Regions from separate parts of the Homo sapiens genome. Here region 1 is linked to region 2. Evidence: fine-mapped expression QTL. A gene starts in region 2. The other region holds a variant in brackets. All regions are shown on one strand. Distances are between the middles of the regions.

Region 1 (8,291 bases), 78 kb before region 2:
AGACAGAATCTCACTCTGTTGCCCAGGCTGGAGTCAAGTGGCACAATCTTGGCTCACTGCAACCTCCACCTCCTGGGTTCAAGTGATTCTCCTGCCTCAGCCTCCTGAGTAGCTGGGGGACTACAGATGTGTGCCAAGCCCAGCTAATTTTTTAAATTTTCGTAGGGATGCAGGTTTCACCATGTTGGCCAGGCTGATCTCAAACTCCTGACCTCAGGTGATCCACTCACCTCGGCCTCCCAAAGTGCTAGGATTACAGGCATGAGTCACTGTGCCCAGCCCCTAAAAGACTTAAAATCTTAAAATTTTCAGGTACAACCATACTCTCTTCCCCAATAATTTTTTTTCCTTACTCTGGATTTCTTTGAGCCCTTTGTATTTGATTATGTTATTTAACCAGAAACTTAATACAATTACAATGAATTATTTAATAATAAGCTCCAGGAACTATCTCACAGGAAAATAATAATAATCTTAATATTTACTGTAATTAAGGACTCAATTTGTGCCAGGCCTGGTGTGAAGAGTTTTATGTCAATCATTTCTATTTACCATACCTTGATTAGAAGAATCTATTCCCATTATGCTAATAAAAAATGGCAACAACAAGGTTCAGGGCAGTTAAATAATTTTCCCAAGGCTACAGTGCTGTCAGAAATTAGCAAACCAGGATGCAAATCTAAATTAGCAAACCAGGATGCAAAATCTAAACCAGGATGCAAATCTCAAGTCCACTAAATTTCCAATATTCCAAGGAGCTATCAACATCAGTTGCAAGTCTCTGAGGCCACCCCAATCATGCTGAGGGCTGGAGGACTTACTCCCTAAGAGGAGGGATCATGGTGGATGGGAGGCAGGACTAGATTGCAGCTCTGACTCAGATAGACAGAGCAGTGTGTGGAGGCTCGTGTCATGAATTTTTGCACCAGAATGACTGTAGGAATAAATCAGGAAACCTGGGAGTACCCAGAGACCTCTCTGAAGGAAGTGGATTGCTCCTTCAGGACCCAGGAAACACTCCAAATACTGTACTGGTATCCCCAGATGAGAGACCCACAGATGGTTTATGTAACAGGACTCTGTGCAGACAACCCCTAGTACCAGCCCAGAGCCTGGTAGACTTGCTGGGTGGCTAGATCCAGAAGAGAGATAATAATCACTACAGCTTGGCTCTCAGGAAGCTACATCCATAGGAAAAGGGTGAGAGTACTACATCAAGGGAACACCCTGTGGGGCAAAAGAATCTGAACAACAGCCTTCAGCCCTAGACCTTTCCTTTGATAGAGCCAACCCAAATGAGAAGGAACCAGAAAACCAACTCTGGTAATATAAAAAAACAATGTTCTTTAACACCCCCCAAAAATCACACTAGCTCACCAGCAATGGATCCAAGCTGAGAAGAACCCCTGATTTACCTGAAAATGAATTCAGGGGGTTAGTTATTAAGCTAATCAGGGAGACACCACAGAAAGATGAAGCCCAATTTAAGGAAATAAAAAAAAATGATACAAGAAGTGAAGGGAGAAATAATGAAATAGATAGCAAGAATAAAAAGCAATCAAAACTTCAGGAAACAATGGACACACTTAGAGCAATGCAAAATGCTCTGGAAAATCTCAGCAACATAATTAAACAAGTAGAAGAAAGAAATTTAGAGCTTGAAGACAGGGTCTTTGCATTAATCCAATCCAACAAAGACAAAAAAGAATAAGAAAATATGAACAAAGCCTCCAACAAGTCTGGCATTATGTTAACCAACCAAATCTAAGAATTCTAAAAGTTTGGAAAACATATTTGGGAGAAGAATCTAGGAAAATTTCCATGGCCTTGCTAGAGACCTAGACATCCAAATACAAGAAGCACAAAGAACACCTAGGAAATTCATCACAAAAAGATCATCACCTAGGCACATTGTCATCAGGTTATCTAAAATTAAGACAAAGGAAAGAATCTTAAGAGCTGTGAGACAAAAGCACCAGGTAGCCTATAAAGGAAAGCCTATCAGATTAATAGCAGATTTCTCAGCAGAAACTGTACAAGCTAGAAGGGATTCTATCTATCTTCAGCCTCCTCAAACAAAACAATTATCAGCCAACAATTGTGTATCCAGTGAAGCCAAGCTTCATATATGAAGGAAAGATACAGTCTTTTTCAGATAAACAAAAGCTGAAAGAATTCACCACTACCAAGTCACCACTACAAGAACTGCTAAAAAGAGCTCTAAATATTGAAACAAATCCTGGGAACACATCAAACAGAACCTCTTTAAAGCATATATCTCACAGAACCTATAAAACAAAAATACAATTTAAAAAACAAAAAACCAAAGTATATGGGCAACAAGTAGTACAATGAATGGAATGGCACCTCACATCTCAATACTAACATTGAATGTAAATGGCCAAAATGCTCCACTTAAAAGATAAAGAATTACAGAATGGATAAGAATTCACCAACCAACTGTCTGTTGCCTTCAGGAGACTCACCTAACACATAAGGACTCACATAAACTTAAGATAAAGGGGTGGAAAAAGACGTTTCATGCAAAATGACACCAAAAGCAGGCAGGATTCTTACATCAGATAAAACAAACTTTAAAGCAACAGCAGTTAAAAAGACAAAGAGGAACATTATATAATGATAAAAGGCCTTGTCCAACAGGAAACTATCACAATCCTAAACATATATGCGCCTAACACTGGAGCTCCCAAATTTATAAAGCAATTACTAATAGACTTAAGAAATGAGATAGACAGCAACACCATAGTAGTGGGAGACTTCAGTACTCCACTGACAGCACTAGACAGGTCATCAAGACAGAAAGTCAACAAAGAAACAATGGATTTAAACTATACCCTGGCACAAATGGACTTAACAGATATATACAGAACATTCCTTCCAACAACTGCAGAATATACATTCTATTTGACAGTGCATGGAACTTTCTCCAAGATAGACAATATGATAGGCCACAAAATGAGCCTCAATAAATTTAAGAAAATTGAAATTATATCAGGCACTCTCAGACCACAGTGAAACAAAACCGGAAATCAACTCCAAAAGAAACCTTCAAAACCATGCAAATCATGGAAATTAAATAACCTGCTCCTGAATGATCACTGGGTCAAAAGTGAAATCAAGATGGAAATTTGAAAATTCTTTGAACTGAACGACAATAGTGACACAATCTATCAAAACATCTGGGATACAGCAAAGGTGGTGCTAACAGGAAATTCAAAGCCCCAAACACATCAGAAAGTCTGAAAGAGCACAAACAGACAATCTAAGGTCACACCTCAAGGAACTAGAGAAACAAGAAAAAAACCAAACCCAAAACCAGCAGAAGTAAGGAAATAAGCAAGATCAGAGCATAAATAAATGAAATTGAACCCCCAATACAAAAGATAAATGAAACAAAAAACTGATTCTTTGAAAAAATAAATAAAATTGATAGACCATGAGCAAGATTAACCAAGAAAAGAAGAGAGAAAATCCAAAAAAGCTCAATAAGAAATGAAATGAGAGATATTACAACTGACATCACAGAAATACAAAAGATTATTCGAGGCTACTATGAACGCCTTTACACACATAAACCAGGATACCTAGAAGAGATGGATAAATTCCTGGAAAGACAGAACCCTGCTAGCTTAAATCAGGAAGAATTAGATAACCTGAACAGACCAATAACAAGCAGTGAGATTGAAATGGTAACTTAAAAATTACCAACAACAAAAAAGTCCAGAACCAGACAGATTCACAGAAGATTCCTACCAAACATTCAAAGAATTGGTACCAATTCTACTGACACTATTCCACAAGATAGAGAATGAGGGAACCCTCCCTAAATCATTCTATGTAGCCAGCATCAACCTAATACCAAAACCAGGAAAGGATATAACCAAAAAAGAAAACTACAGACCAATATCCCTGATGAACGTAGATGCTAAAATTAACAAAATACTAGCTAACCGAATCCAACAACATATGAAAAAGATAATCCACCCTGATCAAGTTGGTTTCATACCAGGGATGTAGGGATGGTTTAACATATGCAAGTCAATAAATGTGATACACCACATAAAGAGAATTAAGAACAAAAATCACATGATCATCTTAATAGATGCAGAAAAAGCATTCAACAAAATCCAACATCCTTTTATGATTAAAACTCTCAGCAAAATCAGCATACAAGGGAAATACCTCAATGTAATAAAAGCCATCTATGACAAACCCACAGCCAACATAATACTGAATGGGGAAAAGTTGAAAGTATTCCCTCTGAGAACTGGAACAAGACAAGGATGCCCACTCTCACCACTCCTCTTCAACATAGCACTGGAACTCCTAGCCAGAGCAATCAGACTAAATAAATAAATAAATAAATAAATAAATAAATAATAAATGGCATCCAAATCAGTAAAGATGAAGTCAAACTGTCACTGTTTGCTGATGGTATGATTGTTTACCTAGAAAATCCTAAAGACTCCTCCAGAAAACTCATAGAACTGATAAAAGAATTCAGCAAAATTGCCGGATACAAAATTAATGTACACAAATCAGTAGCTCTGCTATGCACCAACAGCAACCAAGCTGAGAATCAAATCAAGAACTCAA[A/C]CTTTTTTTTACAATAGCTGCAAAAAAACCAAAATACTTAGGAATATACCTAACCAAAGAGTTGAAAGAACTCTACAAGGAAAACTACAAAACACTGTTGAAAGAAATCATAGATGACACAAACAAATGGAAACACATCCCATGCTCATGGATGGGTAGAATCAATATTGTGAAAATGACCACACTATCAAAAGCAAGCTACAAATTTAATGCAATTCCCATCAAAATACCACCATCATTCTTCATAGAACTATAAAAAAATTCTAAAATTCATATGGAACCAAAAAAGAGCCCTTATAGCCAAAGCAAGACTAAGCAAAAAGAGCAAGTCTAGAGGCATCACATTACCTGATTTCAAACTATACTATAAGGCCATAGTCACCAAAACAGCATGATACTGGCATAAAAATAGGCACATAGACCAATGGAACAGAATAGAAAACCCAGAAATAAGCCTAAATACTTGCAGCCAACTGATCTTCAACAAAGCAAACAAAAACATAAAGTGGGGAAAGGGCATCCTTTTCAACAAATGGTGCTTGGATAATTGGCTAGCCACATGTAGGAGAATAAAAGTTCATCCTCATCTCCCACCTTATATAAAAATCAACTCAAGATGGATTAAAGACTTAAACCTAAGACCTGAAACTATACAAATTCTAGAAGATAACATTGAAAAAATCCTTCTAGACATTGGCTTAGGCAGAGTTTTCATGACCAAGAACTTAAAAGCAAATGCAATAAAAACAAAGATAAATAGTTGGGACTTAATTAAACTAAAGTGCTTTTACCTGGCAAAAGGAACAGTCAGCAGAGTAAACAGACAACCCACAGAGTGGGAGGAAATCTTCACAATCTATACATCTGACAAAGGACTAATATCCAGAATCTACAATGAAGTCAAACAAATCAGCAAGAAAAAAACAAACAATTCCATCAAAAAGTGGGCTAAGAACATGAATAGACAATTCTCAAAAGAAGATATACAAATGGCAAACAAACATATGAAAAAATGCTCAACATCACGAATGATCAGGGAAATGCAAATCAAAACCACAATGCGAAATGCAATACCATCTTACTCCTGCAAGAATGGCCATAATCAAAATATCAGAAAATAGTAGATGTTTGCATGGATGCGGTGAAGAGGGAACATTTCTACACTGCTGGTGGGAATGTAAATTAGTGCAATCACTATGGAAGACAGTGTGGAGATTCCTTAAAGAAATAAAAGTAGAACTGCCATTTGATCCAGCAATCCCAGTACTCGGTATCTACCCAGGGGAAAAGAAGTTGTTATACAAAAAGGATACTTGCACACTCATGCTTATAGCAGCACAATTTGCAATTGCAAAAAACATAGAATCAGTCCAAATGCCCATGAATCAATGAGTGGATAAAGAGATCATGGTGTATATACATGTATATATATATAATGGAATACTACTCAACCATAAAAAGGAATGAATTAATGACATTCATGGCTACCTAGATGAGATTAGTGACTATTATTCTAAGTGAAGTAACTCAGGAATGGGAAACCAAATATTGTATATTCTCGCTCGTAAGTGGGAGCTAAGCTATGAGGATGCAAAAGCATAAGAATGTTTTGGGGGAACCAGCCCCCATATTTCAACGTAGGTTCTTTCTATTTTCCCTAAGTGTTGGCTGGTCTGAGAAATAAAGAAAAAGAGTACAAAGAGAGAAATTTTACAGCTGGGCCTCCGGGAGTGCCATCACATATTAGTAGGACCATGATGGTGACGCCGAGCCGCAAAATCAGCAAGTTTTTATTAGGGATTTTAGAAAGGGAGGGGGTGTACAAACAGGGAGTAGGTCACAAGGATTACATGCTTCAACGGGCAATAAAGATCACAAGGCAAGGCAAAATTAGAAATACTGATGGAGGTCTATGTCCCACTGTGCATGCATTGTCTTGATAAACATCTTAACAGGAAACAGGGTTCGAAAGCAGAGAACTGGTCTGACTAGAATTTACCAGGCTGGAATTTTCCAATCCCAGTAAGCCTGAGGGTACTGCAAGAGACCAGGGCGTATTTCAGCCCTTATCTCAACCGCATAAGACAGACACTCCCAGAGTGGCCATCTATAGACCTCCCCCCAAGAATGCATTCCTTCCCCAGGTTTATTCCTTGCTGAGAAAAGAATTCAGTGATATTTCTCCTACTCGCTTTCTGCAGAAAGAAAAATATGGCTGTATTCTGCCTGACCCCACAGGCAGTCAGACCTTTATCCTCCCTCGTTCCCTGAAAATCACTGTTATTCTGTTCTTTTTCAGGGTGCACTGATTTCATATTGTTCAAACACCCATGTTTTACAATCAGTTTCATATTGTTCAAACACATATGTTTTACACACAATTTGTACCGTTAATGCAATCATCACAGGGTCCTGAGGCAACACACATCCTCAGCTTATGAAGATGATGGGATTAAGAGATTAAAGTAAGACAGGCATAAGAAATTATAAAAGTATTAATTCTGGGAACTAATAAATGTCCATGAAATCTTCACAATTTATGTTCTTCTGCTGCAGCTTCAGCTGGTCCCTCCGTTTGGGGTTCTTGACTTCCCGCAATAAGAATGACACAATGGACTTGGGGAATCAGGGGGAAAGGGTGGGAAGGGGGTGAGGGAGCAAAGACTACAAATAGGGTTCAGTGTATACTGCTTGGGCAATGGGTGCAATGAAATCTCACAAATCACCACAAAAGAACTTACTCATGTAACCAAACACCACCAGCTTCCCCAATAACCTACGGAAACAAAAAAAATTTTTTTTTAAATCAGGTGCTAAATTTTGATTATTTAACTTTTCTTAGATCTTTAAGACTGACCAAAATTTTATCAGTTTTCAAGGTCATTTAAATTCAGACACAATAATAAATAATTTACTTATTTTATAATGGTTAGTAATTTATGAGGGGGCTTGAAATTTCAGTTACCGTAGAATGATGGTACCCTGGTAAGTGTACAACTCCCAGAGGTAGAATTGTGTGTGATCAAAATTTTATTTTATTTACTTGTTCAGTGATTAAGGGATTCTGGACAGATTTCATATAAAATTAACTTTCAAGGGTCTGGTTTTACAGATTGGATGCTCATGTTCTGTAACTAATGAGTTTCCCTGTAAACAAATCTACCTGAGAAGTTAAATTATAACCAAAGATAGTTTGCTCATTAGCAGGAATCTAACCATAGATGGAGCACCTCATTTTTGGCAGTTTACACATTAGATTGATCATTTAATTAAGAAATCATGAAGGACGTAACTTGACCTAAGTAACACAGCTAAGCAAGTAGAAAATTTGAAATTTTAACCAAAGTTTGTCTAATGTCCCAAGGTGATACTCTTGACTAGGCAAATTGCTTTTCACAGTAGGGGATCTAATGAACACTCCCTTGCCCAGTGTCTAGCATGTAATATCCTTTTTTTTTTTAAAACTAAGAACAATAGCATTTTCTTAATCCTGTACATTCTATTTAAAGTTGACCCTTGAACAACTTGGGCTTGAACTACATGGGTCCGCTTATATGTGGATTTTTTTCAACCAAACCGATCACCACGTATACCTAGGGATGACTGTACTGTGGACTCAAATTGAGGTCTTTTAATGAGGAAGAGTTAATAGGTACTAAATAAATGTACACTGA
Region 2 (8,291 bases):
CGAAACCCCATTGTCTCAGCCCAAAATTTCCTTAAGCTGATAAGCAACTTCAGGATACAAAGTCAATGTCCAAAAATCAAAAGCATTCCTATACACCAAGAACAGACAAACAGAGAGCCAAATCATGAGTGAATTCTCATTCACAATTACTACAAAGAGAATAAAATACCTAGGAATACAACTTACAAGGGATGTGAAGGACCTCTTCAAGGACAACTACAAACCACTGCTCAGCGAAATAAAAGAGGACGCAAACAAATGGAAGAACCTTCTATGCTCATGGATAGGAAGACTCAATATCGTGAAAATGGCCATACAGCCTAAGGTAATTTATAGATTCAATGCTATCCCCATCAAGCTACCACTGACTTTCCTCACAGAATTGGAAAAAACTACTTTAAAGTTCATATGGAACCAAAAAAGAGCCCACATAGCCAAGACAATCCTAAGCAAAAAGAACAAAGCTGGAGGCATCAGGCTACCAGACTTCAAACTATACTACAAGGCTACAGTAATCAAAACAGCATGGCATTGGTACCAAAACAGAGAGATAGACCAATAGAACAGAACAGAGGCCTCAGAAACAACACCACACATCTACAACCATCTGATCTTTGACAAACCTGACAAAAACAAGAAATGGGGAAAGGATTCCCTATTTAATAAATGGTGCTGGGAAAACTGGCTAGCCATATATAGAAAATTGAAACTGGATTCCTTCCTTACACCTTACACAAAGATTAACTCAAGATGGATTAAAGACTTAAATGTAAGACCTAAAACCATAAAAACCCTAAAAGAATACCTAGACAATGCAATTCAGGACACAGGCACGGGCAAAGACTTCATAACTAAAACACCAAAAGCAATGGCAACAAAGGCCAAAATAGACACATGGGATCTAATTAAACTAAAGAGCTTCTGCACAGCAAAATAAACTATCATCAGAGTGAACAGGCAACCTACAGAATGGGTGAAAATTTTTGCAATCTATCCATCTGACAAAGGGCTAATATCCAGAATCTACAAAGAACTTAAACAAAAGTACAAGAAAAAACAACCCCATCAAAAAGTGGGCAAAATATATGGATAGACGCTTCTCAAAAGAAGACATTTATGCAGCCAGCAGACATATGAAAAAATGCTCATCATCACTGGTTATCAGAGAAATGCAAATCAAAACCACAATGAGATACCATCTCACGCCAGTTAGAATGGCAATCATTAAAAAGTCAGGAAACAACAGATGCTGGAGAAGATGTGGAGAAATAGGAATGCTTTCACACTGTTCTTGGGAGTGTAAATGATTTCAACCATTGTGGAAGACAGTGTGGCGATTCCTCAAGGATCTAGAACTAGAAATACCATTTGACCCAGCAATCCCATTACTGGGTATATACCCAAAGGATTATAAATCATGCTACTATAAAGATACATGCACAGGCATGTTTACTGAGGCACTATTCACAATAGCAAAGACTTAGAACCAACCCAAATGTCCATCAATAATAGACTGGATAAAGAAAATGTGCCATATATACACCATGGAATACTATGCAGCCATAAAAAAGGATGAGTTCATGTCCTTTGCAGGGACATGGATGAAGCTGGAAACCATCATTCTCAGCAAAATATCACAAGGACAGAAGACCAAACACCACATGTTCTCACTCATAAGTGGGAGTTGAACACTGAGAACACATGGACACATGGAGGGGAACATCGCACACAAGGGCCTGTTGCAGGGTGGGGGGCTGGTGGAGGGATAGCTTTAGGAGAAATACCTAATGTAAATGACAAGTTGATGTGTGCAGCCAACCAACATTGCACATGTATACCTATGTAAGAAACTTGCACATTGTGCACACGTACCCTAGAACTTAAAGTATAATAAAAAAAAATTGTTTTGACGATAACAATACCTACTTCATGGTTATTGTGAAGATTAGATGAGTAAAAGAAAAAAGGACCTAGAAGAATGCTGGCACATAGAAAGCACTCAAGGATTGCTGGTCACTGTTATTAGCTATTGAATATTTGAGGGAACAGAAAAAATTTCTCAATAAAGTTTGACATGGAAATTTAGATAATATGCTAGTCCAGCTCTCTGGCATATAACATAATTCTAAGAAGGATCTCTCTTTTTAGTAGCCACTCAATACTTCTTGGACATTACTCAGTGATAATTACTATATTCTCTCTCAGAGTATAACAGCTCCTTTCCTGTATGTGAAAACCCCACTGAAGAAAAGTCTCACTTTAGGGTTTTCAAACTTTGAAAGCTGGTTGCAGCTTTAAACTTACAGTTCTTATACAAGTGCAGCATTAAGAGAGTTGCTGTGCACCTGTTAGTTTCTAGCCAATGAAGTTATATCATTCTCAGAGATGTTATTTCTTTTCTTCTTTTCATTTTTCTGAGACGGAGTTTTGCTCTTTTGCCCAGGCTGGAGTGAAGTGGCGCGATCTTGGCTCATTACAACCTCCGCCCCCTGGGTTCAAACAATTCTCCTGCCTCAGCCTCCCTAGTAGCTGTGATTATAGGCACCCACCACCATGCCCAGCTAATTTTTGTATGTTTAATAGAGACAGGGTTTCGCCATGTTGGCCAGGCTTGCCTCAAACTCCTGACCTAAGGTGATCCACCCGCCTTGGCATCCCAAAGTACTAGGATTACAGGCGTGAGCCACCATGCCTGGCCATGGGATGTCATTTTTGAGTTTGGTTAATGTACAGGCAATTCTGCAATATCTATGTTTAAGACATTAAAAGCATGGTTTCTAATACTAGACTACTTAGGATTGAATCTTGGCTTCACTACTTCCTAGCTGTATGATCAAGGGCAAATTGCTTAATCTCTCTGTGCCTCAGTGTTCTCAGTTGTAAAACGGGGATAATAAACACGGTTACTGTGAGTACCAAATTAGTTAATACATAACGTAAAACACTTTAAACAGTGCCTGACATCTAATAAATGCTATCTAAATATTATAATAGAAATTTATGGTTAAAATAGAAGAATTAACTAAGTTGAAGGACTGTACAATAAGCCATCAATATGTTTCTCAATCCCAGACAGACCCCAGAATGAATTTTTGCAATCTACCTGTCAGTATATATGCACATGTATCTTATTGGAAAACTCAGCAAAATCATAAGATTTAGGTCCTGGCCCTCAACTATTTTCCTTAACAAAATCTACTTTAGGGAGATGCTGTGAAGGTAAAAATTAGCATGTCCCAGGGAAAGCTCATTGCACACTACAAAGGACTATGACAATAACAGGCTTTAGATTTATTTTCTACATTGGCTCTAGCATTTTAGAAGGGTACTTTTACTACTCAAGCCACTTTCCTGCAACTCTCCCCCGAATTTCCCTCCTTCACAGTGGCCAACCTCAAAGCGTTTTCAATGTAAGTGCCTTTCCTGTTAGTGAGACTTCCCTATGAAAATAAATAGTTTAAAGGTTGTTGGAGCCTAAAACTCACTAAGCCTGGAGAGAGATGTGACTGTCATCTGAGTTACACGTGGTTACAACTTCTGTTTCTCAGATTATAGATTAACTTGCTTTCTTATTTTTCTTGTTCTATACAATGGCTAGAGAGAATTAAACGAAGTTAAGGACAAAAACTTCCTGCCTTCTTAATGATCCTTATAGATTAACTTCTGCTTTGTTGCCCCGGTTTGCTTAGACCAGATGACAGAAAATCCTTTATGAAAAATGTTAAATGTACACTTCCCAAAAAGAAACACTGTCTATAATCAAATTGTTGTAACTATTCTCTAACCTTGTATGAGAAAATGCTGTAATCCTGCTAAAAAACCTCTCAGTTTCTGCCTATATAAGTGAAATCTTAAATCTCTACTTCGGAACGCTGACTCCTTCCTTGGAGTCGGTGTTTCTAGGTAGGCTATCCTCAAACTTCGCGCTTTTGATTATTTTACATTGACACCTCCTGTCATCCGCAAGCTCAAAGGCAAGGCTAATAAAAGATGGCAGAGAGCCAATTAGGGACAGAGCCATGTAATCCTCATACCCAGGTGAGTTTAGGGCAGTCTTGCAGAAGCAGAAGCAAATTGTGGGGTCACGAAACCCTCCGGACCCGCCCGCCTCCACCACCACGCGCCCCTATGACCTTCGACCCCTCCCTAGCCCCAGAGCACGCCGGGAGTTGTAGTTCCCAAAGGCCTGTTCGGGCCAGCGCAGGCGCTTGGGGTTTCCCTCCCACCCAACCCCCGCACTTTACCGGATAAGGAAGCGGCCCGTGCTGCCACGCAGTCGCCGGAACGCGGGCGGGGGCTTCTGGGAGTTGTAGTCTGTTGGGGGCGTGCGCAGTCGGTAAGGAGACGTAGCTTTCCGTGGGGTGTACCACTGCAGTTGGTTCCCGGCGGGAGACGCAGGGTCAGTCTGTGACTCTTCCCCTACCACGCTCCCGCAGAGGCTGAGGAGGCGGTTTCGACTTCTCCTCCGGCTTTCTGTCTTCGGCACTGTGTGCTTCTTGCTCCGCGGTTTATTTCTGTACCTAGTCCTCCCTCCCCTCTTCGGTCCATCTCCAAAGCCCGGGCTTGGCGGGGACTCGCCCTCCGGTAAAGGCAGGGCCGCGACCTCCTAAAACCCGGTCGCCGCCCTGCAGGAACCTTCCTCACTCGGCCCCTCACACCGGGTTTCCGCACTGACCCTCCTTCGCCTCGGTCCTCGCTGCGCTCACCTCCTTCCACTCTTTTTTTTTTTTTTCTCCTTTGCAGGGATGGAAGCTTCCTGGCGCCAGGTGGCCGGTGGCCGAGGCCGATCCCGGGGACGGGCCACTGCCGCCCCCTCAGGAAATGGAGTCCATCTCCGCGGCGCCGGAGGAGGGCGAGAGAAGGGGTCGGTGGGCGCAGTTCCTTCTGGCACCAGTCCCGGAGGAGTCGCGACCACGGCGGCTGCAGGGAGCAGGCACAGCCCCGCAGGATCCCAAGCCCTGCAGACTACCGCAGCCAGCGGTGAGAATGGCTCCCGCCCGCGTGCTCACCTGGATGCCTCCTAAGGCAGTTACTAGTCAGGACCGCCTCCGCCCTCGCCTTCTTTCTTTCACTGCTTTTCCCCTCGTTCGGGAGTTTGTTATCGGGCCCACTTCTCCAGCCTTTCGGGTGGCTGCTCTTTTCGGCACTCTAGGTAGATTTCCATCGCACCTCTTTCATCTTAATTTTAGGTGGTATTACCTTTGTTACTTCCCTCCACTCTTGCCTACTTGAATCTCCAGACCATCAGTTGTAAATTGTGGCCCGGTGTTCTGATTTGGTCTATAATGTTGTTTGGTTAACACAGAGTTTTAAATGTGGATTGATTGTCAGCGGTTGTTTGTCGTTTTTAAAAATCTGGTTAACAACCTTGTGGCTTTAGTTATCTTTGTGCATGGCAACAGTCAGCTCGGCTGAGTCACAGAAATCCCATTTAGATTGGACTTGGGCATTCCATCTCACATTCTCTCTCATTTCTGGAGCCAGGTGTCATTTGTCATCTTTACCTTTGCCTTTGTTTCTTGACTTGTCTTATTCCTTGTAAGCACTTGAGCTTTTGATACCTTCCTTGACTGTAGTTCCTATTTACAAATTCCATGTCCTTCTGTGGACATATCTGGTGTTGCCTCCGATATATCAATACTTTTCATCCAAGACCATGTTTTCGTGGAGCCAGGGAGGACTTACACACAATTGTGCATGGGGCCGAGGGAATAATCCCTGAAATCATTTTATTTTTGTGTTTGGAATGCATTTCAGGATACATTTTTTTGGGGGGTGTGGAGCAGAATTGAGTATCTTGAATGATTTTTCTCCTAGGCTAATTTGAAAGGTAGGTGGTATTCTCTTAGCATGCAGTTAATGGCCGTGATGATAAGGTATACAATATGGAGACGTGTGAACAGGTTTGGTAAACTTTTTTTTTTTTTTTTTTTTTTTGAGACAGAGTCTCGCTGGTCGCCCAGGCTGGAGTGCAGTGGCGCAATCTCGGCTCACTGCAAGCTCTGCCTCCTGGGTTCAGGCCGTTCTCCGGCCTCAGCCTCCCGAGTAGCTGGGACTACAGGCGCCTGCCACCACGCCTGGCTAATGTTTTGTTTTTTGTTCTTTGGTTTTTTTTTTTTAGTAGAGACGGGGTTTCACCGTGTTAGCCAGGATGGTCTCCATCTCGTGGGTAGAAGGAAAACAAGCATTCTGTCCGGGCGCGGTGGCTCAAGCCTGTAATCCCAGCACTTTGGGAGGCCGAGGCGGGCAGATCATGAGGTCAGGAGATGGAGACCATCCTGGCTAACAGGGTGAAACCCCGTCTCTACTAAAAATACAAAAAATTAGCCGGGCGGGGTGGCAGGCGCCTGTAGTCCCAGCTACTCGGGAGGCTGAGGAAGGAGAATGGCGTGAGCCCGGGAGGCGGAGCTTGCAGTAGCCGAGATTGCCCCACTGCACTCCAGCCTGGGCGACAGAGCAAGACTCCGTCTCAAAAAAAAAAAAAAAAGAAAGAAAAGAAAAAGAAAACAAGCATTCTCTACCTGGACAGTTGAGATTTGGCTGTAAGAAATAATACGTGAGAAGGTTGTCTTGTCAGCTTCTCTTTACTTTGAGATGATGTTAGGTGAATACATTTATCAGGTTATGAATGTTCTCATTATCTCTGTCCAGTTCAGCCTGTTTTCTTATGTATCTTTTAAGTGCTAATTTCCCGTATATTAATGACATTTATCATCTCTTTTGTGACAAGTTTTGAGTTATATATCTCATAGCCAGTTCTTTTTTCCCAGTACTCAAAGCTTGCTAGGTAAGCATGATACACATTTTCGTCGAGGTTTACTTGAAATACTCAATTTGTTTTGTTAATAACCCCTAACCAAACTGGCTGCAATAAGAAAAGGAAAATGTTTCATGAGGGAACATAATCAAGTACGAATATACCACCCAAGATAAGAGAGCTTATCTTGGTAGTGGCTTATCAGTTTTAAGTATAATGTTAATTTTAAAATAGTCAATCAGTAAATTTAAAATCCTCTCAAGATGGGAATTCATGAACTCAGATCAGTTCTGCAGGTTTGTGGCTCCTTTCTTAAACTATGTTTGCTGTCCGTAAGAGCTTATTAACACTTAGTGCTTGAAGAAAATCCCTGTGGTCCTTGCTCTCAAGAAGTTTGAAGTTTCTTTGGGAGTATGTGCAGTGAAGTAATCTGGTTTTGTTTTGCATGATTAATCAAGTAACAAAATGAGAAGTACAGGTAGTGCTGAATAGTGGAAGAACGAATCCAAAATTAACATTCTTTTTGGAATGAAGTTGGAAGAAACATGTTTTCCATGTTAATACTTTGTGTGGATTAATGTAAAATATGTTTTTTTGTGTGACCACAAGAAGTCCATAATAAAGGCAAAAAGTTCTTGACCTAAGAAGCCGATTGTAAATATAGTGGGTGCATAGTGAGTACTGTTGGTACAAACTCTTTGGTAGGGCTGGACTGGACTGGGCTGGGCCGTCGTGTCCTATCCTACCTGTTGTTCAGAAGACGGTAGTTTGAAATACCTACCTTCCCTGATTCTTTATGTGCTCACTGTGGACATGTTCCCTCACTTCTTAAAAATTACTGTGCACAATGTACTTTAAAACATCTTAATTTTTGTTAGTCCTTATTTTGAAGTTGATCACCAGTATTTTGATAGTTTTATTGTATTTTCATATTTTTTTTCTTGATTTGTTAATCACCGTTATCATAAAAATTTGCTGCATTTTAGCAGGATACTTAGAAAAGTGAAAGTTTTTGTTGTGGTATTCTCTTTAGTTGTGTGTCAAGGAATTTGAAAATACTTTTCTCGTGGATTACAGGAAGGTAGAATGCTCCAAAGGTGACTTTCAAATGTGTGTTGTAAAATGATATATTAGCACATTATGCTTTTCTTTTTGAGAGATTGTTTTGCAGAAATGAAACTTTTTTCTTTTAAACAGAGCTAATGTCTCAGAAAAAATTTGAAGAAATCAAGAAAGCTAACCAAGCTGCAGCCAGAAAACTTGTTGAAGAACAGTTTAGCTCTTCATCTGAAGAAGGAGATGAAGATTTTGAAGGAAAACAGGGAAAAATACTTGCAAATACGTTTATAACATACACTACTCAGACAGGTACTGATCTTTTAAATTTTGACTTTTGACGTCAATGAAACTGTATTCCTGACATTTTTTTGGTAATGCCTTTGTTCTATATGGAATAGATTTTATATCTTAAGATGAGCACTGTATGTTATAGAGTTGAATTTTTGTACACTTTGGTATTTGAGTTATATATTGT

What was found.
Region 1: its variant is fine-mapped to the expression of NFXL1 in whole blood (INTERVAL, PIP 0.98).

What each region holds. Positions count from the first base shown.
Region 1 is chr4:47,988,768-47,997,058 of GRCh38, reverse strand. The region is part of intron 2 of CNGA1 (cyclic nucleotide gated channel subunit alpha 1); the gene reads left to right. LOC101927157 (a long non-coding RNA gene) reads right to left here. Exons shown (of 3, transcript NR_125879.1): 3 at 6,322-7,393. Among named protein-coding and RNA genes, the nearest start is that of CNGA1, 24 kb to the left of the region's middle. The variant A/C (reference allele first, on the strand shown) is at 4,618.
Region 2 is chr4:47,910,658-47,918,948 of GRCh38, reverse strand. It overlaps NFXL1 (nuclear transcription factor, X-box binding like 1), which reads left to right and starts at 4,366. Exons shown (of 23, transcript NM_001278624.2): 1 at 4,366-4,584; 2 at 4,744-4,980; 3 at 7,955-8,125. The coding sequence starts at 4,746. LOC101927157 (a long non-coding RNA gene) reads right to left here and starts at 4,722. Exons shown (of 3, transcript NR_125879.1): 1 at 4,245-4,722. RefSeq lists enhancers at 4,386-4,615, 4,126-4,811, 4,812-5,498.